Homo sapiens: one gene and its partners. The protein of the gene in region 1 interacts with the protein of each later gene in a pairwise test. Each region holds a gene or a part of one and is shown in the gene's direction. Other genes may lie near its edges. The genes, in order: FBP1, DYNC1I1, PTPRJ, ASL, AXIN2, TLR2 and BAAT.

What was found.
Region 2: the proteins of FBP1 (region 1) and DYNC1I1 interact in a two-hybrid assay, tested with the Homo sapiens proteins (one large-scale study listed by BioGRID and IntAct).
Region 3: the proteins of FBP1 (region 1) and PTPRJ interact in a two-hybrid assay, tested with the Homo sapiens proteins (one large-scale study listed by BioGRID and IntAct).
Region 4: the proteins of FBP1 (region 1) and ASL interact in a two-hybrid assay, tested with the Homo sapiens proteins (one large-scale study listed by BioGRID and IntAct).
Region 5: the proteins of FBP1 (region 1) and AXIN2 interact in a two-hybrid assay, tested with the Homo sapiens proteins (one large-scale study listed by BioGRID and IntAct).
Region 6: the proteins of FBP1 (region 1) and TLR2 interact in a two-hybrid assay, tested with the Homo sapiens proteins (one large-scale study listed by BioGRID and IntAct).
Region 7: the proteins of FBP1 (region 1) and BAAT interact in a two-hybrid assay, tested with the Homo sapiens proteins (one large-scale study listed by IntAct).

Annotation. Positions count from the first base shown.
Region 1 is NC_000009.12:94,608,519-94,612,018, reverse strand, and holds part of FBP1 (fructose-1,6-bisphosphatase 1), read left to right. Parts: intron 1-1,957; coding exon 1,958-2,098; intron 2,099-3,500. UniProt on the Homo sapiens protein: Catalyzes the hydrolysis of fructose 1,6-bisphosphate to fructose 6-phosphate in the presence of divalent cations, acting as a rate-limiting enzyme in gluconeogenesis. Plays a role in regulating glucose sensing and insulin secretion of pancreatic beta-cells.
Region 2 is NC_000007.14:96,034,554-96,038,053, forward strand, and holds part of DYNC1I1 (cytoplasmic dynein 1 intermediate chain 1), read left to right. Parts: intron 1-1,065; coding exon 1,066-1,199; intron 1,200-3,500. UniProt on the Homo sapiens protein: Acts as one of several non-catalytic accessory components of the cytoplasmic dynein 1 complex that are thought to be involved in linking dynein to cargos and to adapter proteins that regulate dynein function.
Region 3 is NC_000011.10:48,130,559-48,134,058, forward strand, and holds part of PTPRJ (receptor-type tyrosine-protein phosphatase eta isoform 1 precursor), read left to right. Parts: coding exon 1-158; intron 159-952; coding exon of another isoform or gene 953-957; exon of another isoform or gene 958-2,162; intron 2,163-3,500. UniProt on the Homo sapiens protein: Tyrosine phosphatase which dephosphorylates or contributes to the dephosphorylation of CTNND1, FLT3, PDGFRB, MET, KDR, LYN, SRC, MAPK1, MAPK3, EGFR, TJP1, OCLN, PIK3R1 and PIK3R2. Plays a role in cell adhesion, migration, proliferation and differentiation.
Region 4 is NC_000007.14:66,085,819-66,089,318, forward strand, and holds part of ASL (argininosuccinate lyase), read left to right. Parts: intron 1-766; coding exon 767-844; intron 845-925; coding exon 926-1,003; intron 1,004-1,515; coding exon 1,516-1,568; intron 1,569-1,910; coding exon 1,911-1,973; intron 1,974-2,988; coding exon 2,989-3,103; intron 3,104-3,272; coding exon 3,273-3,357; intron 3,358-3,457; coding exon 3,458-3,500.
Region 5 is NC_000017.11:65,541,149-65,544,648, reverse strand, and holds part of AXIN2 (axin-2), read left to right. Parts: intron 1-3,091; coding exon 3,092-3,194; intron 3,195-3,500. UniProt on the Homo sapiens protein: Inhibitor of the Wnt signaling pathway. Down-regulates beta-catenin. Probably facilitate the phosphorylation of beta-catenin and APC by GSK3B.
Region 6 is NC_000004.12:153,704,020-153,706,760, forward strand, and holds the end of TLR2 (toll-like receptor 2 precursor), read left to right. Parts: coding exon 1-1,243; 3' UTR 1,244-2,241; downstream 2,242-2,741. UniProt on the Homo sapiens protein: Cooperates with LY96 to mediate the innate immune response to bacterial lipoproteins and other microbial cell wall components. Cooperates with TLR1 or TLR6 to mediate the innate immune response to bacterial lipoproteins or lipopeptides.
Region 7 is NC_000009.12:101,382,207-101,386,298, reverse strand, and holds the start of BAAT (bile acid-CoA:amino acid N-acyltransferase), read left to right. Parts: upstream 1-1,292; 5' UTR 1,293-1,444; intron 1,445-2,425; exon of another isoform or gene 2,426-2,556; intron 2,557-2,734; exon of another isoform or gene 2,735-2,829; intron 2,830-4,092. UniProt on the Homo sapiens protein: Catalyzes the amidation of bile acids (BAs) with the amino acids taurine and glycine. More than 95% of the BAs are N-acyl amidates with glycine and taurine.

The DNA of each region.
Region 1 (3,500 bases):
CAACCAGCTAACTAACCACCTCCCCAGGTGAAAACTAGGAGGGGCAGGGAAGCGGTGGAAAGAAATGGGTTTGTGGTTTTCTGGTTTGTGGTTTTCTCATTTATATGAGTAGTTGTTATGCTTGAATGTGAAGTTCTTACACTTGAGTGTGAAGGTCACCCCTTCACATTGCATAGTGCAATGCAGATTCTCAGGCCCCGCCATGGAAAGTCTGACAGTGTGTCTAGGCTGTAGCCCCAGAATATGCATTTCTTTTCTTTTTCTTAAAGAGGCAGGTTCTCATTCTGTCACCCAGGCATGTGCAGTGGAATGATAATGGCTCACTGCAGCCTCGACCTCCCAGGTTCAAGTGATCCTCCAGCCTCAGCCTCCTTAGTAGCCACAGGCACATGCCACCATGCCTGGCTAATTAAAAAAAAATTTTTTTTCGTAGAGATGGGGTCTCCCAGTGTTGCACAAACTGGTCTCAAACTCCTTGCCTCAAATGATCCTCCTACCTTAGCCTCCCAAAGTGCTGGGATTATAGGGATGAGTCATGACCCCGGCTGTGAATGTGCATTTTTAATAAATATCCCAGGTGATTCTAATGCAGGTGCTCTGTGGGCCACCCTTTTGAAAGTTATGGGAAGAAATTACCTGGAATGTTTTGCTGGGATGACTTCCTTCTCCAGCTGCGTGATACAGATGCCCCTGCTTACGCTCAGCTGCAGGAATCTAGGAAAAGAATAAGTGAAGTTCGAGAAATTGCATATTTTTATTTCTGCTTAATTCAAGCAGAGAGTAGTTAAGCTGAAAGATTTGTTTGGGGCTGTCTTGATGACCAAAGAGGTCAATCCAGTGTTAATAAAGAAGATCAGGCTGGGCGCAGTGGCTCACGCCTGTAATCCCAGCACTTTGGGAGGCCGAGGCAGGTGGATCACGAGGTCAGGAAATAGAGACCATCCTGGCTAACACGGTGAAACCCCCTCTCTACTAAAAATACAAAAAATTAACTGGGTGTGGTGGCAGGCGCCTGTACTCCCAGCTACTTGGGAGGCTGAGGCAGGAGAATGGTGTGAACCCGCGAGGCGGAGCTTGCAGTGAGCCGAGATAGCACCACTGCACTCCAGCCTGGGCGACAGAGCGAGACTCCGTGTCAAAAAAAAAAAAAAAGAAGAAAATCATTAATAGTAAGAAATCAGTGGTTAGGAGCTGTCTCCTTAAGGGGCTCCCTTCCCTAGTGTTAGAAAAACTCTGGACCACATGACCCAGTGGGCTGTGTTTTTAATGAAAAAATGGATTACGGCACATGCCACGTTCTAAGTGTAGGTATTATTTTGGTAACTTTTTGGTGTGTGTGTGGGGGCACTGGTTTGTGATGTAAAATGTGCTTCTTCCCATGCATCACGGTTAAAACACTGGACAGCATCTGCTCTACCCCATAATGACTCTGGGGAGATATTCTGAGTTCCTACGTTTCTGAGAATTTCCCTGACGTGTGAGTGATATAGACCACATGCTCAGCAGAGTATGGGCTGCAGCGGCAAGAGCTCACAAAACTGATTTCCTCCGCAGACTGGCTGCCCTGCAGCCCAGTGTTAATTTATTTAAATAAAGATGGAGTAGGCAGGTGACAGAGATGGATGCCCGTAATAAGATTAAATTAGTGGGAACTGGCAAGAAGGCATGCTCTTTTTTGGAACTGATAGTGGAGAGATGAGGGAATATCACATTAGAAAAATTGGAGGAGGGCCCTAATTGGAAAGAGGAATCCAGATGCAGGAAATCTGGGTTCTGGTGGGAAGGCTGCCGTGATAATCTAATCAGGATATTGCTGATGTGTAGGGGAAGGCCCCTCTGGGAAGATGCCCTATTTCATTAGAAGAGCACCTTGAGAATGCCTCCTGTTAATGGTTGAACTGTAAAAAAGAATCACAAAACAAAACAAAAACATTCTTTGATTTCTTTCTTGCTCTAGAAATCAACTGATGAGCCTTCTGAGAAGGATGCTCTGCAACCAGGCCGGAACCTGGTGGCAGCCGGCTACGCACTGTATGGCAGTGCCACCATGCTGGTCCTTGCCATGGACTGTGGGGTCAACTGCTTCATGCTGGACCCGGTGAGAGACCTCACAGGAGGCTGGGGGCTTGGCTGGTGTCTGTGAGCAAATGAATGATATGTGTGGGGGATTGGCAGGGGTATGTGGAGGTGGGAGGTGATGCCCATGGAGGGACAGAGATGATGATGTGTGGTGGAAAGGGGGCAGGAGACCAAGAGAGAGTGTATGCCTCCCGAGCAGACTATGGAGGTGAGAAATGCCATCTCAGACTGGCACAAGAGGGGGTCTTTGTTCCAATGTGAATTCCTCAGAGCAGCTGTTACTCAAATGACCCAAATGCCAGGTCCAGGCAGGCCATAGGGATGATGAAGTGTGCTGGGGAAGGAAGGCCGGGGGGCAAGGGTGGAACTGGGGTGAACTGAAGAGTTCCAGCAATTACAATTGGGAGGAGGGGGCCCGCCTTGCCAAGGCTTCTATTAATGGTTCAAGAAACACTGGATTGTAAAAAACATAATGTTTCTGCATGTGTGCAACACTATGTTGGCCAACTAAAATGCATTTATGGACCTGATGGGGCTGTAGATATTCTGTTTGCCATAAACTGTATCCATCCATTTCTAGCTTTTCTACTTTAGTCACCAAAAGGCTGTTTTCCTGAGACGAATGGGTGTGCCAACTGAAGCAGTGGACGACATTGCTTCTTCAAAAATAGCTCCCACATTTATTCGTGTACATTTACACAAACCTTCAGTTAACTGGTGCAGTCTTTCTTTCTTTTTTTTTTTTTTTTCTGAGATGTAGTCTTGCCCTGTCTCCCAGGCTGGAGTGCAGTGGCGTGATCTCGGCTCACTGCAAGTTCTGCCTCCTGGGTTCGAGCGATTCTCCTGCCTCAGCTCCTGAGTAGCTGGGACTACAGGCGCCTGCCACCACACTTGTATTTTTAGTAGAGACGGGGTTTCGCCATGTTGGTCAGGCTGGTCGCGAACTCCTAACCTCAGGTGATCTGCCCGCCTCAGCCTCCCAAAGTGCTGGGATTACAGGCATGAGCCACCATGCCTGGCCAACTTTTTTAACTTTTAGAGATGTCCTCCTATGACATTAGTGAACTATGTGTAAAGTGCTTTTTGCTGGCAAACTGAACCCCAGGAACAGACAAGGAACAGGAACCTTCTGTGCGAGATAGGCTGCTGGAGGTGAGGCCGGGTCTGTGTGTGGCAGGAAGGCTAACTCAACACAGGCTGCCTTTGTCCCAGGCTGTCAGGGAAGTGGACTTTCACCTCCTTGGAAGCATGGGCACTTAACAAATAAACAAGGGTAGGGTAATAGCACTAGTTAAAGTCGCCAAATGTGGTGACCTGGGTAGGGGTGGGGTGGGGGAGTTAGTGGCAGAACCAGAGCAAAGTTCCACCTGAGCCCAGGATGGAATTTCGGGCACCACTGATGTTTGCTGACTGTGATTTGC
Region 2 (3,500 bases), on another chromosome or scaffold:
AATGGGTAAAGGGACTTTTCCTTCCTTGCTGCTAATTTTAGTGATGAAGCAGATCATTGGATGATCCAGTTATCTGTATGACATAGTCACAGCATCCTCTCCTTTATCCCAGTTGCTGATGTGCACCCTATGTGTGGATATCACAAACTTTGAACACATCACAGGATCAGAATCAGTCTGTGTTGCTTAGACTGTTAGCTTGCACTTTCAATTTAATGGACTCCTTGGCTGAAATAGTTTATTTGCACAAGAAAGACTAAACTCTCAAGCAACTATAATGATATGATACCTCAGAATGATTTTTTAAAAATTATTTCAGATGCACAAAATAGGCTATTTGATGTAAATAGCCAGAAATACTCAGGGATATTAGTTATAATTGATTATTCTTTTCTGTCATTAAACTTAACTCAGCAGTATATCTTTTAAGATTAGGAATCTTTAATTCTCAATTTTAAAAAATCATATTATAAAATAAAGACTCCCATTTGCTATTTTAAAGACGTATTTAAATATTGTTCTTTTCAGGCTTATAGCCTATTCACCCAATGGCTGCCCTGCATGAAATCTAGTCCCTGTTGAAATCTGGTTTTTATGACCTGAGTGACAACTTTCTGGTTTTAGTCCATGGAGGACACATACTCCTGCTTTGACAAATTTGCTTAGTACATCTGATATTAATACATGTGTATTCTCACAAACAATTGATTTTGAAAATGTTTGTAAATACAAGGGTATTGTGTGTTTTATTAAAGCTTGGAGCTGACAAGTGTAACCATTATTATCTTTAGTTTCTGCACCATTAGTTTCAAAATTCTCACCTGTCATCTTTGCCTGACTTAAGAAGCAGCAGCACATGCTGATGAAATCCAGCCGGCTTGAAACCAGAGATCCACAGAAGCATGAATGTCAGGGGCAGTAAAGCATGGTTTCTGGCACAGCCGGGGTCTTTTGTAACGCTGTGTGAAAAGCAAACACATGATTTAGCCAAATGATTTTTCCGTGCTATCTTTGGCATGGCAAGGAGTTGACAGATGGAAATGTAACCACACCGTGTTTTGGTAGGAGAGCATGGAGCTGGTGTACAATAAGTCCAAGCCTGTCGCTGTTACCGGAATGGCTTTCCCAACGGGAGACGTCAATAACTTCGTGGTTGGCAGTGAGGAAGGTACAGTCTACACGGCTTGTCGTCATGGAAGGTGATTTTTCTGTTTCTTTACTGATGACATGTTCTTCATTTCCGAAAGTCTGTTATCACATTCTGGATTTTAACCACCTTGCATTATGAGAAAGCATCTCTGGAAAAATGGAAAGCACGACTTCAACTCTTCATTATCTTAAAGAGCTGCATCTGCTCTGGTCATTAGCTGTTCATAAGACTGTGGTGGTTCACACTGCCTTGAGGGAAAAAAGCTCGAGCTTCTGAGCCTATCATAACAGACCACTTGCACCTTCCCAGCATCTCCGCATACCTTCAGGGTCTAGCCATGTGCCCATCAGAGATAACAATCCCCAAATATTTCTTATCCCTCCATGCCTCAATGAGTTTGCATACTCAACTTCTTTTACCAGTTCTAGCATTTCTCCCTTTTTGGCCTGGTTAATTCCTCCTCATCATTCAAGAGCCAGCACAGAGATCATTCCATGTGAAACATTTTCTGACTCTTGGGCAAAGAAAACCACTCCCACCTTTAAGTCCCATAGAATTTTCAATTCTCTTATTCATTCACTCTTCCAAGGAATATTTACTAAGAACCTACCATGTGCCAGGCATCATCAAAAGGATACATTAAAGAACAAGACAGACCTAGAGTTCATATTCTAGTTGAGGGTAAAATACTAATAAGCAAATAAATATATAGTTTAGGATGGTAAGTGCAATGGAGAAAATTAAAGTAGAATAAGTGGGATAGGACTATAGGCTGTCAAGTTGACAATTTCATATATTTTCCTTATGCTTCTATAATAGCATTAATCGTATTTTAGTTTATTCATTCATCTGCCATTTTTCTCTTACTACATTATTTCCATTTCATCTTTGATTTCCTGCACAGTACCTAGGACATAGTAAGTGAGGAGCTAAAAATATATATTGGGGATAAAGAAATGATATATAATGTAATCCATCCAATCTAAAGAAGTGCCTTAAAAGCTTTCCTCCCAGTCAGATGGGTCAGAACAGAGTGAGTCACACAAACCACCATGCAGTTCCCAGGTGATAAGAACTCTACCTTAACTGAGAGATTCACAATGCCCCTGGAAAAGAGTTGTCAGTATAAAGTGGAATCCAATAGTTTGGACTAGATTGTAAAATTGCATGCAAAACTTAACAGGTGGCCTCATGTCTTTTGAAAGGGTCACTATGTTCACACTGGTGCTTAATTTGTCTTTTACTTTAGTAGTTCTTATTCCATTGATTTTTTTTCATCTCTTGCACTCATCCGAGGCTATTAAGATTTAATGAAGAACCACAAATTGTTCCAAGTTCATATCCCTGTGTTTTTGTGATTTGTAGAAATGACAAGCATCCATGGCTCAGCTATGTGACTTTTTCCATTCAAACTATACAAGCTGTTATGTTCCTGCTGTTCTGCACGTAGAAACAAGCAGTATTTGTCCCCTCACATGATTCAAAGATGACTTAGGAAGATATGCCTCACAGTCCATTCCCAATGATCCTCCTTCATAAACCCTGGCTAAAACCACACATTAAAGCTTTATCAAAGCATAAAAATATTTGATAAAGTTATTCATTCATAAATATATTTGTTGTATGCCTACTTTGAGCAAAGTGCATTGTTAGGTTCTGCAAGGCCTGCAGACGTCATGTAAACCTGGTTTCTCTCTTCAAAATAACTGATGACGGTGAGAAAGATAAATACACAAATATCTGGAACATGAGTAGAATGTCTTAAGTGGCATGAGAGGCATAGAGAGTATAGTAGGCCAGACCTGGAGTCACAGCTTTATCTATATGCGTATTAGAATCAACATGGCATAGGTTCAGTTAACTTAACCCATGGTTTTACCTAGGTCCTTGATTATCTACGAAGGCTATAGAATACATTCATTGATAATTTCCAGATTTTTTTCATTGCTATAAAGTGAATAACATTTTACATGATGAACATTCTTGTTCTGTGGCTACTGTACTTTCTAAGCACTATCAGAATATGCACTTTGGTTCAAAAGAAGGGTCCCTATGGCACACACCACAAATCTTTTTACAACAAGCTGAATTTTGCTTTACATTGGTCCATCCATCTGAAATATAAAATACAGACCTTAGTAACATTGTAACGTAGCAGGCATTGGCTTTGTAGTCATTCTAAATGGGTCATATAGGTCTATGGGGGAGAAGCAGGGGATTGCTATTTTTCACCTAACATAGAGAAGGTGCAAATCCACTTCCATAAATTAAACAAGGTCCTCATTTTGCACCCTATAAATCCTTTCAGGATGCTGTTAAGAGCAAGTGGAGTCTCACCAGGGGCCACTTC
Region 3 (3,500 bases), on another chromosome or scaffold:
CACACAGGAGGGAGCTGGCAATTCTCGGGTAGAAATAACCACCAACCAAAGTATTATCATTGGTGGCTTGTTCCCTGGAACCAAGTATTGCTTTGAAATAGTTCCAAAAGGACCAAATGGGACTGAAGGGGCATCTCGGACAGTTTGCAATAGAACTGGTAAGCAAATAGGCTTTTCTGTTAAACCATCATGTTTCTTAAAGGAAATCAGTATAATTAATAAACATAATGTTTCCAAATATTGTTTTTCTTTTAATTATCTAAGAAAAAACTTTAAAAATTTTCATAACACTAATGCTTATTTATTATATGAAATACAGACAAGTAAGTAGAAAAAACTTACATGGAAACCATCAAGCAGAGATAATCACTTTTGATGTATGACATTTTACAATTTTTAAACATATACATATAGATACACAAATATATGTGTGAGTATACATATATTTAATACATATATATTTAATATTTAATACACACACACACACACACACATATATATATATATATATATTTTTTTTTTTTTTTTTTTTTTTTTTTGAGACAGTCTTACCCTGTCACCCAGGCTGGAGTGCAGTGGCATGATCTTGGCTCACTGCAACCTCCATCTCCTGGGTTCAAGTGAAGCGATTCTTGTGCCTCAGCCTCCTGAGTAATTGGAATTACAGGTGTGCACCACCATGCCTGGCTAATTTTTATAGTTTTAGTAGAGACAGGGTTTCGCCATATTGGCCAGGCTGGTCTTGATCTCCTGATCTCAAATGATCTGCCCACCTCAGCCTCCCAAAGTGCTTGGATTACAGGTGTGCGCCACTGCACCCAGCCCACAAATATATATTTATTTCTTTCACAAACATTGAGGCCATCTGTACATGTGGTTTTGTAATCTGCCTTTTCCCCAACTTGCCAATTAATTATGAATATTCTTTCCTCTTAATAAAATATTTCTACAGGATGATTTGAACACCTGCCTGGAATTCCATCATCTGAAACAGAGTTGGCAGATAAGAATGGCCCCTATGCCAAATTTGGCTCATTGTCTGTTTTTGTAAATAAAGTTTTATTGGATCACAGCCATGTTCATTTGCTTATGTACTGTCTATGGCTACTTTGGTGCTAGAATTGAGTAGTGGCAGCAGAGAACGTGTGGCTTGTGAAGCCTGAGATATTTATTTTCTGGCCATTACAGAGAATGTTTGCTGACCTCTGGGCTAGATCAGTGGTTTTCAAATTGTGGTCCAGGGCTCTCTAGGGATCCCTAGGTTCTTTCAAGGGGTCTCCAAGGTAGTATTATCATAACAATACTAAAATGTTATTTGGCTTTTTCATTCTCATTCTCTTTTGGAGTTTTCCAACTTTGATCCGATATGGGATGACATTGTCTCTCAGGTCTAATGGAATATATGCTGTGGATTCTTACATTTTAAAAATTTCTTCATTTTAAATCCCTGATATAGTAAATATTAATAAATATAACCTATGTAAATACAAATTCTCTGAGAGCCTTAATAACTTTTAAGATGGTAAAGAAGTCCTGAGAGCAAAAAGTTTAAGAACCTCTGGTCAAGATGTGTTAGAAATTAACTACTGTGCTGTGTTGGGCAGGTGGACTGTTCACAGTCTTTCCTAAACAACACTGTGATGAGATACTTTGTTAGTTCTAGAAGGCTAATTGAAATTGATAAAATCATTTTATAGTCAGCTACGGTGGCCTGCACCCATCGTCCCAGCTACTTGAGAGGCTGCGGCAGGAGGATTGCTTGGCCCAACAGTTGCAGACTAGCACCAGCCTGGGAGACCCTGTCTCAAAAAAAAATTTTTTTTTATAGAAACAGTTTAAATTATTAAATTATTTCTAGGCCTACAGGAGAAACTTCTGGGAAATCCTAGAGAGTAATGTTCATTATTGTTGTTTTAAAATTTTGAAATAATTGTTTTTTGGAAAGGTTGAAAAACATACAGTCTTCCTTGATCTAAGATTCAAGATAGTTGAAATCTTTTATACAGAGGGTAGAATAAAGATATACCTAATGTAAATGATGAGTTAATGGGTGCAGCACACCAACATGGCACATGTATACATATGTAACAAACCTGCACGTTGTGCACATGTACCCTAGAACTTAAAGTATAATAAAAACATATATATATATATAAAAGAAATGGGACAGATTCCTTGAAACACACATGAAATGAGTTACGCTTTTGAGATTCTCCTTGAAGAAGCTTCTTCAACTGTGCTGGTTGGGTTAAGCACCGATAGTCACTCAGAGGATCTGCTTCTGAAATAAGGGATCTACTAAAATGCATCCCTCAGATGAAATGCAGTATTCCCTTTGCAAATCTGCATTTCAGACTGTTGACATGACGTCTTAACGTCAACATGTTTCTTCTGTCTTTTAAGGATGTGGATAATGGTAAGAGGATCACCACTGAGGGAGATGCATGATGTTGTGCTACTTGCTATTGCCCAGAACTTACTGTAACAATAATATAATATGCTGGGGGTCTGCGAAGTGCTGAGTGCTCTCATACTGCATTTTACATTTTTAACACAACTTCATGGAGCAGGTATTATTATCATTTCTGTCTTACAGAGTAAGAAATGGGGGCTCTGCAAACTTAAGTAACTGGCCCAGAGTGACAAGGTGGCAAACTGACCTGTGTCTGCTGTCTAAGACCAAGTGCTTAACCACCATGTAGATTGACACTTTGATGTGGTACAGCAGTAAAGTTTAGTATTAGTGAGGAGAGGGCATCTCTTTTACTATAGTTTATTGTGAATATTCTTTCCTCTTAATATCAGTATTTCTACAGGGTAATTTTAACACCTGCCTGGAATTGCATTGTCTCAAAGGACCCGTTTCATTCAATGGTCCCATTGAATGAAAGTCAAGAAGGCTTGCTATAAGATCTAAACTCTTAGGGGGGTTACCTTTCTATTATCAAATAACCTTTATTGTTATTGGAAAAAGTCAGCTTAACAGCATTAAAAGCAATTTCAAAAAAAGGAAACGAATACCATATGATCCAGTAATTCCAGTCCTATGTATATCTCCAAAAGAATTGAAAACAGGCCCCTGGACAGTTATTTGTACATCAGTGTTCATAGTAGTAGCATTGTTCACAGTAGCCAAAGGTGGACCCAAGATCCCATCAACAAATGAATGGATAGATAAAATGTGGTTCATCCATACAACAAAATACTATTCAGCCATAAGAAAGAAAGAAATTCTGATTTATGGTACAACATGGATGGATCTTGAGGACATTATGCTAAGTGAAGCCAGACACAGAAGGACAAATACTGGATGATTCCACTTACATGAGTACCTAGATTAGGCAACTTAATATTCTACAGAAATTAGAATAGAGGTTACCAGGGGCTGTTCAGAGGAGGGAGTGGGCATTATTGTTTAATGGCTACAGTTTATGCTGGGGATAATGACAGTGTTTTGGGTACAGGTAGTGGTGATAGTTACACAACATTGTGAATATTGA
Region 4 (3,500 bases), on another chromosome or scaffold:
AGGATGGTCTCGATCTCCTGACCTTGTGATCTGCCCGCCTCGGCCTCCCAAAGTGCTGGGATTACAGGCGTGAGTTACCGCGCCTGGCCACAAGACCCCATCTTTACAAAAAACTAAAAATTAGCTGGGCATGGTGGCATGTCCCTTTAGTCCCAGCTACTCAGGAGGCTGAGACAGGAGGATCGCTTGAGCCCAGGAGATCGAGGCAGCAGTGAGCTATGATCATGCCACTGCACTCCAGTCTGGGCAACAGAACGAGACCTTGTCTCTAAAAATAAAAACAAAACAAAACAACAAGAAAACAGGACCATCACTCACAGCACCTCTGCCTCTGCCCTGCCTACTTGAATGAGGTGCAGGGCATCTCACCTGCTCAGAGCAGCCCTTGAATGAGCCCCAGCTATTTCTAGGGTCCTCAAACGAAACCTCCCACGGCCAAGTCATACCCAACATGGGCCTCCTCCCCTATTCTGGCCCCTGCTCGGAGATGCTGAGTGACAGAGGCTGGACTTGGGGTGTTTCTGGCAAAGCCTCACTGCAGGAAGCCCCACAGCTCAGGCCCAGTCCTTGGTTCACACGGTCCCACTTCCAGCTTCTTTTGCCCTTAAGACTGATTTGTCCCTGGGAGATCACCAGATCCCTCATTCAGGTGGAGTGCTGCAGCGTGACACTTTTTCCAGGGGTGACCCAGGCCTGCAGGGTTCCAGTGTCACAGGCAGGCCTTGCATGAGCCTCCACCCGAGCTTCTGCTCCTCCTCTCCCACAGGGAACGTGATGTTCTCTTCCCGGGGTACACCCATTTGCAGAGGGCCCAGCCCATCCGCTGGAGCCACTGGATTCTGAGGTGAGCCAGGTGAGGTGCAGGGGCTGTGCTAGAGGGGAGGACCCCGGCTGCCCTGACCCTCCTGCCCCTGGCTTCCCACAGCCACGCCGTGGCACTGACCCGAGACTCTGAGCGGCTGCTGGAGGTGCGGAAGCGGATCAATGTCCTGCCCCTGGGGAGGTGGGTGAGGCTCCAGTGCCCCGAGGGCCTGGTGGGGGTGGCTGCTGCATAGCCTTAGGGATTGACAGAGCTGGGAAGTGCAGAGTGGGACAGAAAACCGCCTTATCTGCTCAGCGGGGGACTCTGCATGGAGCCCCAGCTCTCGCTAAGGTGACGACCAAGCCATTGAATGTGTCTGAGCAGGGCCAGAGCCCTCCAGCAAGGCTCCTGGCAAGCCCAGCCTGCTGCCCTCAGCCTGACATGTGGGAACATGTGTCAGGAGACAAGTGTCCTGCACCCAGGGTGACTTAGTGCTTGGGGACAAGTGTTTTGTGGACACTTGGGGACAAGTATTCTGTACCCAAGGAGACTGGGCCAGGGAAGAGGCTAAGCGCCAGGTGGTTGCCCTGGCAACCAGGACTTGGTTCTCTGTGTGTGCGTTCGTGTGTGTGTGTGTGTGTGTGTGTGTGTGTGTGTGTGTGTCAGGGCTGCCTGCCAGGAGCCCTGGTCACCATGAATCCCTGTCCCTGCAGTGGGGCCATTGCAGGCAATCCCCTGGGTGTGGACCGAGAGCTGCTCCGAGCAGGTGAGACGTCCTGCCCCTCCTCCCCAGGGAGAATCACCCTCAGCACCCGCCAAGACCTGCAGACACACCTGAAACCAGAGGGCAGGGGCCTGTGGCTCCTGGTGAAACCTTCATTCATTGCCTATGGGCACTGAGGTCATCAAGTTCAGGGGTCACTCATGGCAGGGATGCCTGGTACTGAGAGACTCAGGGCTCCTGCCTCCCTCCTGGGACTGTGCAAAAGATCCCTCCCCCCAGCTGTTGCCCCACCCTGATCAGGGGAGGGGGCTGGGCAACCTAGTTGGGGGAGAGGGGGCCACTCCCTGTCCTCCAGCTTAGCCCTGCTTCCTCCCACCCCCCCAGAACTCAACTTTGGGGCCATCACTCTCAACAGCATGGATGCCACTAGTGAGCGGGACTTTGTGGGTGAGTCCTGGGGAGCCAGTCCCCTGCCCTGTGCCTCACTTTAGTCCTTCAGCCCAGCTTCTCTCCAGTTTCCTCCCACACCTCCACGGACAGGCTGGTTGTGGTGATATTGTACACTGAAGTATAAACCTTAAATGGGTAAAGTGGGTGGGGCATGGTGGTTCACCATGCCCAGCACTGGCCAACATGGTGAAACCCCATCTCTACTAAGAATACAAAATTTAGCTGGGTGTGTGGTGGCAGGTGCCTGTAATCCCAGCTACTCAGGAGTTCTGAGGCCAGAGAATCACTTGAACCCAGGAGGCGGAGGCTGCAGTGAGCCAAGATCACGCCAGTGCACTCCAGCCTGGGCAACAAGAGCGAAACTCCATCTCAAAAAATAAAATAAAATAAAATAAAAATAAATAGGCCAGGCATGGTGGCTCACGCCCGTAATCCTAGCACTTTGGGAGTCCGAGGCAGGTGGATCACATGAGGTCAGGAGTTTAAGACCAGCCTGGCCAACATGGTGAAACCCCATCTCTACTAAAAGCACAAAAATTAGCTGGGCATGGTGGTGCATGCCTGTAATCCCAGCTACTCGGGAGGCTAAGGAAGGAGATTCGCTGGAACCTGGGAGGTAGAGGTTGCAGTGAGCCAAGATTGTGCCACTGTACTCCAGCCTGTGCATTGGGAGCGAGACTCCATCTCAATAAATAAATAAATAAATAAATGGATAAATTGTATGTGAGTGATAACTCAGTAAAGCTGGTTTATTTAAAACAACAACAATAACAAAAAACACGCTAGGTGCAATGGCTTACGTTTGTAATCCTAGCACTTTGGGAGGCCAAAGCAGAAGGATTGCTTGAGCCCACAAGTTTCAGAACAGCTTGGGCGACATAGCACGACCCCATCTTTGCGAAAAATGAAAATTTAGCCGGGTCCCCCCACCGCCTAACCTCCTCCTGCCCCCTGTATGGTCAGGCTGGGTGGGGATGGGAGAGGCCTGGTGACTGGGAACCTTTTCTCCCAGCCGAGTTCCTGTTCTGGGCTTCGCTGTGCATGACCCATCTCAGCAGGATGGCCGAGGACCTCATCCTCTACTGCACCAAGGAATTCAGCTTCGTGCAGCTCTCAGATGCCTACAGGTAAGCCCTGAACTGCCACCTCCATCTGCCGCTGCCGGCCTCTGTATCCCCCGCCGCCCGCGGACGTGGCTGCCTTCCTCCCCGTCCCACCCCTCCGCCAGACCTGGCCATTGCGGCGCTGGACCAGCCAAGGGTCCAGCCCCTTCAGCGCCAGCACCTCTGTCCCCAGCACGGGAAGCAGCCTGATGCCCCAGAAGAAAAACCCCGACAGTTTGGAGCTGATCCGGAGCAAGGCTGGGCGTGTGTTTGGGCGGGTGAGCAAGGCAGGGGGAGGGGCGGGGCCTCTGGGCTGATGGTGGGTGGCCAGGGGGGCAGGATCCCGGGTCCAGCCCCTGTGCCTCCCTCTTCCCGCAGTGTGCCGGGCTCCTGATGACCCTCAAGGGACTTCCCAGCACCT
Region 5 (3,500 bases), on another chromosome or scaffold:
AGGCTTGAGCAGCCAGGAAACTGATCACAGACTTTTAGAGCTTGAATAAAAGAAGAGAGGCCCCCTTTTGGAATGAGGGGCTGTTTTGGAAGAAGATTCTTGGCTGGAGGGAATTAAAGCCACATTTCCTTGAAGGTGCCTGTTAAGCCTTTCTGAGCCTCTACAGGCTGACATCTTCCTTTTCTGCTCTGGTTACAAGTTGCCTTTCCAGCAGTTTAGTCCTTCACCTGCCCTGGGTAATGGAGTGTGTGTGGTGGTGGTGGTGGGGGATGGGGGGCGGGGTATGAGGTGCTTATGAAATCATTTGTTCCTTTTGCCTTCAATATTGCAGTTATCTACTCCCCTCCCCATCCCTACCCCCATCCTGTTTTTTTTTTTTAACCTTATTATATGGAAGAAGAAAAAGAGGCATAAAAGCTCTACCACTGACTTTCATCTGGGAGAAGGAAGAGTGAAAGCTACCAGTGGAAATGTCAAGAGTCTTGGAGGGGGTGGACGGGGGACTCTTCTAGGACTCTTGAAGCCTTATGTCACTTGTGTCATGGTGGGGTCCATGGAGTGCTTGACTCCTGCCCCCAAGACTGTCAGGAACAGGGCTGAAGCAGAGTCATCCACTGTCTAAGTCCCTAGAAGAGAGATGGAGGATAGACATTGTCTTACAGCCCTAGGGCAGCAGAATTTGGTTAGACCAGCATGAGCCCAATCTGTGGGATACCGCCACCCCTACCATACAAGGTATCTTAGGTGAGAGATGGGGATATTCAGCATGGCTTGGGAACCACCTGGCGAGCCCCATAGCTAGTGAGTACTAGGTGGTTGGGGAGGACTTCCCAGAAAATTCCACAAATTTCCCCCTCATGCCTTATCAATGTCAGGTGACTGCGTGGGGCTTAGGAAATGGCATCTCCACATTAAGACCATCAGGAAGCTTGACTGCTGATTGGGGCTGGGAAGGGCATCTTATTGAAATGACCAAGTGTAGGTTGTTACAGATGCCTGTTCTGGAGTCCAGCAGTGGCTTGGGTATGAGTTGTCAATCTGCTACTGACTGTAACACTAGGTGAGCTATTGAGCATTTCTGGTCATCTGTAAAATGTGGCTCATTAAGGTTCTTATGAGAATGAAGTCTGATTATAGGTCCAATGTCTGACGTACAGTAGGGACTCGGTATCTATGAGCTGGCATTCTCAGGTTGGCATCAGTTGCCTTGGGTGCGATTTGGTTTCTGGTCAAGCCAGGCATGCTTATAAGTCCCGTTTTCAGCTACCCAAGGTGAAGACACAGAGTTTTGATAAATAATCTTTAGGTGGGCTTGGTCAGGTGCCGAGCCTCATGAGTAGGAGGCTGTTTCTCAGTCATGAGTAGAAGACGTGTTTCTCCAGCACTGGTCAGCCAGCTGCTGCGAATCCTTCCCACAGTGCTCTGTCTCTGCTCCATACTTACCTTTCTTTGGGGCAGTACTCACACTTGGGGGTAAGTTGTTGCTCTGGATACTGATCTCTCTTCTCTCCCTTCCCTACTCACCTCAGTGCAATTATCGTTTATGCACTCCTTAGCCAGGGTTTGGTTAACATACATTGGTTTGTTGATCTATTGGAATCTTCATTGTCCCTTGTGTTCCTGTTTTCTGACCTAGGTCAGTAGACTTCCTGAAAATGCAGCTATTTAGAATTCTAGGGCATTTCAGATAAGGAGCTAGAGGTTGACTAGTTACTCCTGGCTTGCCCCCTGGGTATTTTTAGACATTGCTAATTATCCTATTTTTCTTCCACCCTATGATGAACCAGACATTGGGGAAAGGGAAGTAGCCAAACACCCAATTTCAATATTTACAGCCTCCAAGTATGATTCATTATGAAAATGTTTGCACCCTGAGGCTTTTGTAAATAAGTGGCCTCCTGAAGGGACATCAATGGGAAAATAGTCACACCTTGACCATTCTGCTTTTAAGAAGGAAATTCTTTCTGGAAAAAATCATGGCAACTCTAGGTCATAGTTGTAGTGAACACTAGCTGGAGTGGCAGCTTTTTAAAAATTCTTCTACTTGTTAATGTTTTGTTTTTAAAAATATAATGGATAGGGGCCCATACTTCTTCAGGTCTTTGCCCAAAGGTCCCTTTCTCAATGAGGACTTGACACCCACATCCAATTTAAATTTGCAGCTTACCCACTCACCAGTGATTCTCCTTTTCCTGCTGTGTATTTATTCATAGTACATATCACTAACATACTATTTTTTATTTTGTTCATTGCCTGTGCCTCCCCATTAGAATGTAAACTTCAAGAGGGCAGTTGTTTGAATTATGTATCCACTTTGTCTACTGCTCTCTTGCCTAGTGCCTAGGAGAAGATCTGGCACATAGTAGGTGCTAATCTTTAAATGGATTGCACAGACCACCACATAGTAGGGGCTTTTCTCTTCATGCCCACATTGGTCATGTGTCTTTGAAAATTCATTGGTTGGGGGTGGTAGGGTTTGGAGCTGAGAGAAGGGGCCTAAATGTTATATATTCTTTTTATTAATCACGCTGTACTGGTTTATAAAAAGAAATACATTTGGAAATGACTAGGAGGTTGACTTGGAGAGTTATGCATGCTTCACTAATGCCTGATTTAGCCCTCTGTAGGTTTGGTTCTTATCCCTACAACTTTCTGCCCTGGCCCTATCCATAAGGCACTGGTTCCTGGTTTGAAGCAGTGGGAACAAGTGGGAGGACCAGTGGGGCCTGAGAATCTCCTACTTAGGGCACCTGTAAAATAGGGGAGCCTTTGCTCTGCCTGGGCTGGCTGGAGTGTAACCCAGTTCTAAGACAACAGTCCGAGAGATTAACTTTCCAGGCTCTTTCCAAGTTGATGCTTCTGCATCCAAGGAAGCCAAGTTTCCATAGATGATTGATGGGCAGGATTTAAATTTGACCTTGGGTGGGTCCTTCCCTGTGGGAGCACCGATGGTATCTGGAGACATGTGACACTCCTATGGAAGCATGTGGCCCTGTCGGCGGGATCTCAAGATGGCATATGACAGTAGCCCATGTGATGTGCTGAAAACATCCTCGTAAGCCTGTGGATTCTGTCTTTTCCTTTCCCTTAGAGATGGAATTCCTCCTTATCGTGTGGGCAGTAAGAAACAGCTCCAGAGAGAAATGCATCGCAGTGTGAAGGCCAATGGCCAAGTGTCTCTACCTCATTTCCCGGTGAGTACAGTCTGGAGTGAGGAGACAGCTGTTTTCTGCCATGTTGAGTCCTAAAGAAAAGAAATGGGTGGTGGAATGGGGAGAGGTATAGGGAAGGTAGAAAAGAGCAGTACCTAAGGTCCCCTAGGGCAAAGGGAGAGAAAAGAACTGGACAATAGGCATTACATGGTTTTTTGGGTTGTGATGGTGAGCACAGTGATGTGATTATGAGGTATCAGTCAGTTTTGCTATAAAGGAATACCTGAGGTTGAGTAATTTATAAAAAGAAGAGGTTTACGGCTGGGCACAGTGGCTCATGCCTGTAAT
Region 6 (2,741 bases), on another chromosome or scaffold:
GATGGTTGAAGAATACTTGAAAAATTCAGCCTGTGAGGATGCCTGGCCCTCTCTACAAACTTTAATTTTAAGGCAAAATCATTTGGCATCATTGGAAAAAACCGGAGAGACTTTGCTCACTCTGAAAAACTTGACTAACATTGATATCAGTAAGAATAGTTTTCATTCTATGCCTGAAACTTGTCAGTGGCCAGAAAAGATGAAATATTTGAACTTATCCAGCACACGAATACACAGTGTAACAGGCTGCATTCCCAAGACACTGGAAATTTTAGATGTTAGCAACAACAATCTCAATTTATTTTCTTTGAATTTGCCGCAACTCAAAGAACTTTATATTTCCAGAAATAAGTTGATGACTCTACCAGATGCCTCCCTCTTACCCATGTTACTAGTATTGAAAATCAGTAGGAATGCAATAACTACGTTTTCTAAGGAGCAACTTGACTCATTTCACACACTGAAGACTTTGGAAGCTGGTGGCAATAACTTCATTTGCTCCTGTGAATTCCTCTCCTTCACTCAGGAGCAGCAAGCACTGGCCAAAGTCTTGATTGATTGGCCAGCAAATTACCTGTGTGACTCTCCATCCCATGTGCGTGGCCAGCAGGTTCAGGATGTCCGCCTCTCGGTGTCGGAATGTCACAGGACAGCACTGGTGTCTGGCATGTGCTGTGCTCTGTTCCTGCTGATCCTGCTCACGGGGGTCCTGTGCCACCGTTTCCATGGCCTGTGGTATATGAAAATGATGTGGGCCTGGCTCCAGGCCAAAAGGAAGCCCAGGAAAGCTCCCAGCAGGAACATCTGCTATGATGCATTTGTTTCTTACAGTGAGCGGGATGCCTACTGGGTGGAGAACCTTATGGTCCAGGAGCTGGAGAACTTCAATCCCCCCTTCAAGTTGTGTCTTCATAAGCGGGACTTCATTCCTGGCAAGTGGATCATTGACAATATCATTGACTCCATTGAAAAGAGCCACAAAACTGTCTTTGTGCTTTCTGAAAACTTTGTGAAGAGTGAGTGGTGCAAGTATGAACTGGACTTCTCCCATTTCCGTCTTTTTGATGAGAACAATGATGCTGCCATTCTCATTCTTCTGGAGCCCATTGAGAAAAAAGCCATTCCCCAGCGCTTCTGCAAGCTGCGGAAGATAATGAACACCAAGACCTACCTGGAGTGGCCCATGGACGAGGCTCAGCGGGAAGGATTTTGGGTAAATCTGAGAGCTGCGATAAAGTCCTAGGTTCCCATATTTAAGACCAGTCTTTGTCTAGTTGGGATCTTTATGTCACTAGTTATAGTTAAGTTCATTCAGACATAATTATATAAAAACTACGTGGATGTACCGTCATTTGAGGACTTGCTTACTAAAACTACAAAACTTCAAATTTTGTCTGGGGTGCTGTTTTATAAACATATGCCAGATTTAAAAATTGGTTTTTGGTTTTTCTTTTTTCTATGAGATAACCATGATCATAAGTCTATTACTGATATCTGAATATAGTCCCTTGGTATCCAAGGGAATTGGTTGCAGGATCCTCGTGGATATCAAAATTCATAGATGATCAAGTCCCTTATAAGAGTGGCATAGTATTTGCATATAACCTGTGTACATTCTCCTGTATACTTTAAATCATCTCTAGATTACTTATGATACCCAATACAATGTAAATACTATGTAAATAGTTGTACTGTCTTTTTATTTATATTATTATTGTTATTTTTTATTTTCAAAATTTTTAAAACATACTTTTGATCCACAGTTGGTTGACTTCATGGATGCAGAACCCATGGATATAGAGGGCCAACTGTAATCTGTAGCAACTGGCTTAGTTCATTAGGAAACAGCACAAATGAACTTAAGATTCTCAATGACTGTGTCATTCTTTCTTCCTGCTAAGAGACTCCTCTGTGGCCACAAAAGGCATTCTCTGTCCTACCTAGCTGTCACTTCTCTGTGCAGCTGATCTCAAGAGCAACAAGGCAAAGTATTTGGGGCACTCCCCAAAACTTGTTGCTATTCCTAGAAAAAAGTGCTGTGTATTTCCTATTAAACTTTACAGGATGAGAAATACTAGAGGGTGTATTTTCATGTGATCTGGATCTGTCTTTCTGGCTATTAGATAGGTTTCTCCAGCCATAGTTACTTGAGAGAGTGAGTACACAGTGCAAGGTACAGTAAATTATGTATTTCTGTAATTTAACAAAATAAATACTCAGTTTAGGAGAATTTGAAAGACACTTCCCACATCCGGACTCTGGTCTTCCTCAGCCTCTAACTACCTTTTGAGTTCTAGTTATTGTCCAATCACTCTGACTCTCAGTTCCTGTTTTTTAGCCTATATCTCCTGCATCTTGTTGCTTTTTCCTTCTTCGAAAAGTCTTGTTTTTAATTCTAAAAAAGCCTGCCCTTTTTCCCCTTCTGAATATTTTAAAAAGTACATGTGAGCTAAATAGATTTTTAAGCAAATATATACCTAGAGTTTCCTCATAATGACTCAAAAATAGTTTGATACACAGTAATTTAAAGGTAGATACTACTACCATATGTTAATTTTGCAATCTAGGTATAATAATACCACACATTAAATTTTGATGCAACTTTCTTTGGTAAGCACTATTTGCTGATTCTATGTAACTTTCTTAAGCTGGGAACCATGTGAAAGGAAGTGAGCCTTTGACCCCTGCTCAATTCTCAACCAGAACTGGGTGTATGTGGTTAATTGGGCACTAGAGTCAGA
Region 7 (4,092 bases), 6.8 Mb from region 1:
TTGTTGAGGCGATTAGGGTAAGGTCATTATAGTGTTCAAATCTATGCCTTTACTGATTTTTTTCAAGTTTTCTACCAATTGTTAAAAGGGATTTAAACACCTTCACTCATGGTTATGGAATTGTTATTTTTCCTATTTCTCCTTTTAATTCTGTCAATTTTTGCCACATAAATCTTGAAATCCATTATTCGGATTTATGGTTTTTATGATCTTGTCATATAGATATATGATATATATATATTTTATAATCTTAGTCATTACTACTTTAGGTTTCTTATGCTTATTGTTGCATAGTATGTGTTGCGGGAAGTCAGGGACCCCAAATGGAGGGACTGGCTGGAGCCGCGGCAGAGGAACATGAATTGTGAAGATTTCATTTTAATATGGACATGTATCAGTTCCCAAAACTAATACTTTTATAATTTCTTACACCTGTCTTTACTGCAGTCTCTGAACATAAACTGTGAAGATTTCATGGACATTTATCACTTCCCAAATAATACTCTTATAATTTCTTACGCCTGTCTTATTTTAATCTCTTAATCCTCATATCTTGGTAAGCTGAGGATGTACGTCACGTCAGGACCACTGTAATTGTATCTGACTGTACAAATTGATTGCAAAACGTGTGTTTGAACAATATGAAATCAGTGCACTTTGAAAAAGAAAGAATAACCGTGATTTTAGGGAACAAGGGAAGACAACCACAAGGTCTGACTGCCTGTGGGGTCAGGCAGAATAGAGCCATATTTTTCTTCTTGCAGAGAGCTTATAAACAGACGTGTAAGTAGGAGAGATATCGCTAAATTCTTCTTGTAGCAAGGAATATTAAATATTAAGACCCTAGGAAAAGAATTGCATTCCCAGGGGGAGGTCTATAAACGGCCACTCTGGGAGTGTCTGTCTTACGCAGTTGAGATAAGGACTGAAATACACCCTGGTCTCCTGCGGTACCCTCAGGCTTATTAGGATGGGGAAAAAATCCTGCTGTGGTAAATCTGAGGTCAGACCGGTTTTCTGCTCTTGAACCCTGTTTTCTGTTGTTTAAGATGTTTATCAAGACAATACATGCACAGTGGAACATAGACCCTCATCAGTAATTCTAAGTTTGCCCTTTGCCTTGTGATCTTTGCATTGCCCTTTGCCTTGTGATCTTTATTGGCCTCAGAAGCATGTGATCTTGTTCTCCCTTTTGCCCTTTGAAGCATGTGATCTTTGTGACCTACTCCCTGTTCATACACCCCCTCCCCTTTTGAAATCCTTAATAAAAACTTGCTGGTTTTGTGGCTCGGGGCCTCACGGTCCTGCTGATATGTGACATCACCCCCGGAGGCCCAGCTGTAAATTCCTCTCTTTGTACTCTTTCTCTTTATTTCTCAGACCAGCCGACACTTAGGGAAAATAGAACCTACGCTGAAATTTTGGGGGCAGGTTCTCTTGCTAGGTATGTATTTTTTTCATTTACTTACTTCCATTCTTTTAATGTAATTTTTCACCACAATCCAGACTCTCAGTAATCCTTTCCTTGCTTTTGTTTAAAGATTTACTCCAAAAATGTGGCCTATAGTTTTAGTTCAGCAAATACAAATTTGAAAGATTTATTTATGTGTATTTATGACTAGTTTCTAACGACATTATGTTTATAAGATTCATCCAGGTTATTGCATGTAGTTGTAATTCATTTATTTTTATTCTCTAGAAGAAGAATTGCTGGGTCAAAAGTTATTCATATTGTCACATTTATTAGACAATGTCCAATTGCTTTCCAAAGTGGTGGTACCAATTTATATTCCCTTAGTAGGGCTTGAGTCTGAGTGATTCACTTCCTAACCAACTCTTATTTTTGGAATTTTTAATTGTTGCCAACCTTTTAGGTATGAAATACACACCATGATTTTAATTTGCATTTCTTTGATAATGAGATTAAGCCTTTTCCCATAAGCTTATGATTGTGTCCTATTGTCTGTTAAGTACCTGTTTAAGACTTTTTCTCATATTCACCTGAGATTTTTAGACATTACTTTTTTAGGAATATTTTATGTATCCCAGTTAATAATTCTTAATCAGTTGTATCTGTAGCATAAGTCTTGCAAGGTAGTAGCTTAATAGTTTTCAAGTTTTTTATGGAGTATTTGGCTGATCAGACTTCCTTAAAATTAAGTTGAATTTAAGTTTCCTTTAAGTTTGCACTTTTTAAATGCTCTATCACCTCAAAAAAGATCCAGTACTTTTATGGAGATAGTCCTTTTATTGTCATGTAAAATCCTACTAACACTCCGTTCTGTAGCTATTTCAAGAAACCATGTGAATTAGTTGAGGAGGATTAGTAGGAGATTTGGTCCTCCCCAAATTCTGAAAGTGGGGCTTGAGTATTTTATTACTCATTACTGTGATCACATTTGTAGTTTTCATCTTTTGTTGTCTCAGGAAAGAAACCATTTGCAAATGCAGAGCCCTCCAGAAGTTACCTTGAGTATTTTATTGCAGAAGAAAAATATGCCCTAATGGTGCCAATAGGGGTCAAACAACTTCTATAAAGAAAATTATTAAAATAATGTGAGTAAAATGTAGTGGCAATCCCTAAGAGGGACGGATTTAGAGAGAACAGAAAATGAAGAGGGAAAATAGTGATACATTTATTGGGTTCAATAACTGTTAAAAATTAATAGGAAACTAGAGCAAGAGGTATGTGGTGACCTAGCACTTAAGTTAGCTCTGTTATACTTCCAAAGGCATATTTGAGGTTTTGGCCTTCTGGGCAAGTTTTGGTAGGGTGTCTGTCATTTTCCCTCTACTGCTGGAAAAGAAGGCTCAAGAGGAAGAATCCAGGTACTTTGTATTTTAATCAGGACTATTTATTTGGGCCGATTGGAAATAAGTTAAAATCTCTGCTCTTGAATTAAATCAGAGTTTATTTACCTCAGTGTTTGGAATTTTAGCAGTTCATGAGGACAAATAGTCTTTTTGTTCATTTCATAATCTCAGCTGTAGAGTTGCCCAGAGTGCTCAGATAAGTGTGTCTTTTCATTTTGATTTGCTTAGAAAGGATGTCAGTAGGGACTTGCTATTATGATGATATTGAGCTGAAATTTATATTTCTGAGGAAAATGAAAGGCTATCAGAAGTCATTTGTTAAAATTTCTTTATTCTGTCTTCCCCATCCCCATCAATATTTCTCCCTCTTTTAAAAGACTATTGCCTAGAATTTTATAGAATAAGCCCTCCTATTCTGGGAAACTGTACTGTGGTCCTATTTATATTTTGTTTGAAGGGTAATTTTCTTTTAATGTAAGACTAATGCCATGTTAGAATTAGATTCTGTGAAAATATTTCTTGAAGCTTTGAATATATGTTATACCTATTTATGCAATTCAGGAATGCTTTCTGGTAGTGAAATGTAATGTTAAAAAATACCAAAAAAAGCAAGTATAAGTTTGAGCTAAAGTTAATGACTTTCTAATTGACTTATTTCTGTTTGGGCACGCTGGTTGATGCATGTGATATTTGTATAGAAATAAATTGAATGGATAATATTGTTAGGGGTGGTGAATATCTGAGTTACTGGTGGCAAATCTGTATGGGTCTGCAGCAATCTCATTTCTTGCCTCCTCGAAAGAAAGAATTCAACTGAGGGGCATAAGGCAGTAAAAGAGACCAAGGCAAGTTTCAGAGCAGGAGCAGAAGTTTATTAAAAAGCTTTAGAACAGGAAAGAAAGGAAAACACACTTGGGAGAGACCCAAGCAGGCATCTTGGAGGTCAAGTGCCTCGTTCATCCTTGAACCTAGGATTTTATATGCTGGCCTACTTCTGGCATCTTGCACCCCTTTCCCTTCATCCTTCCCTTAAGGGTTATGGGGAGCCACCCACATGCATGGTGCCCTGCTTGTGCTTGGGATGTGGGCATGCACAGTGTGTTTACTGGAGTTTTATGCATGCTTATCTGAGGCTTTCTTTCAAATTCTGGTGGAATGCCCCTGGAAGGTCATACTCTGCCATTTTGACTCTTAATGTGCATGTTTGAGCTCATTCGCCCAGTTCCTGAAAGCTGCCAATTATCAATTTCAGGTGTTTTTATCAGTTGAGAAACTGCC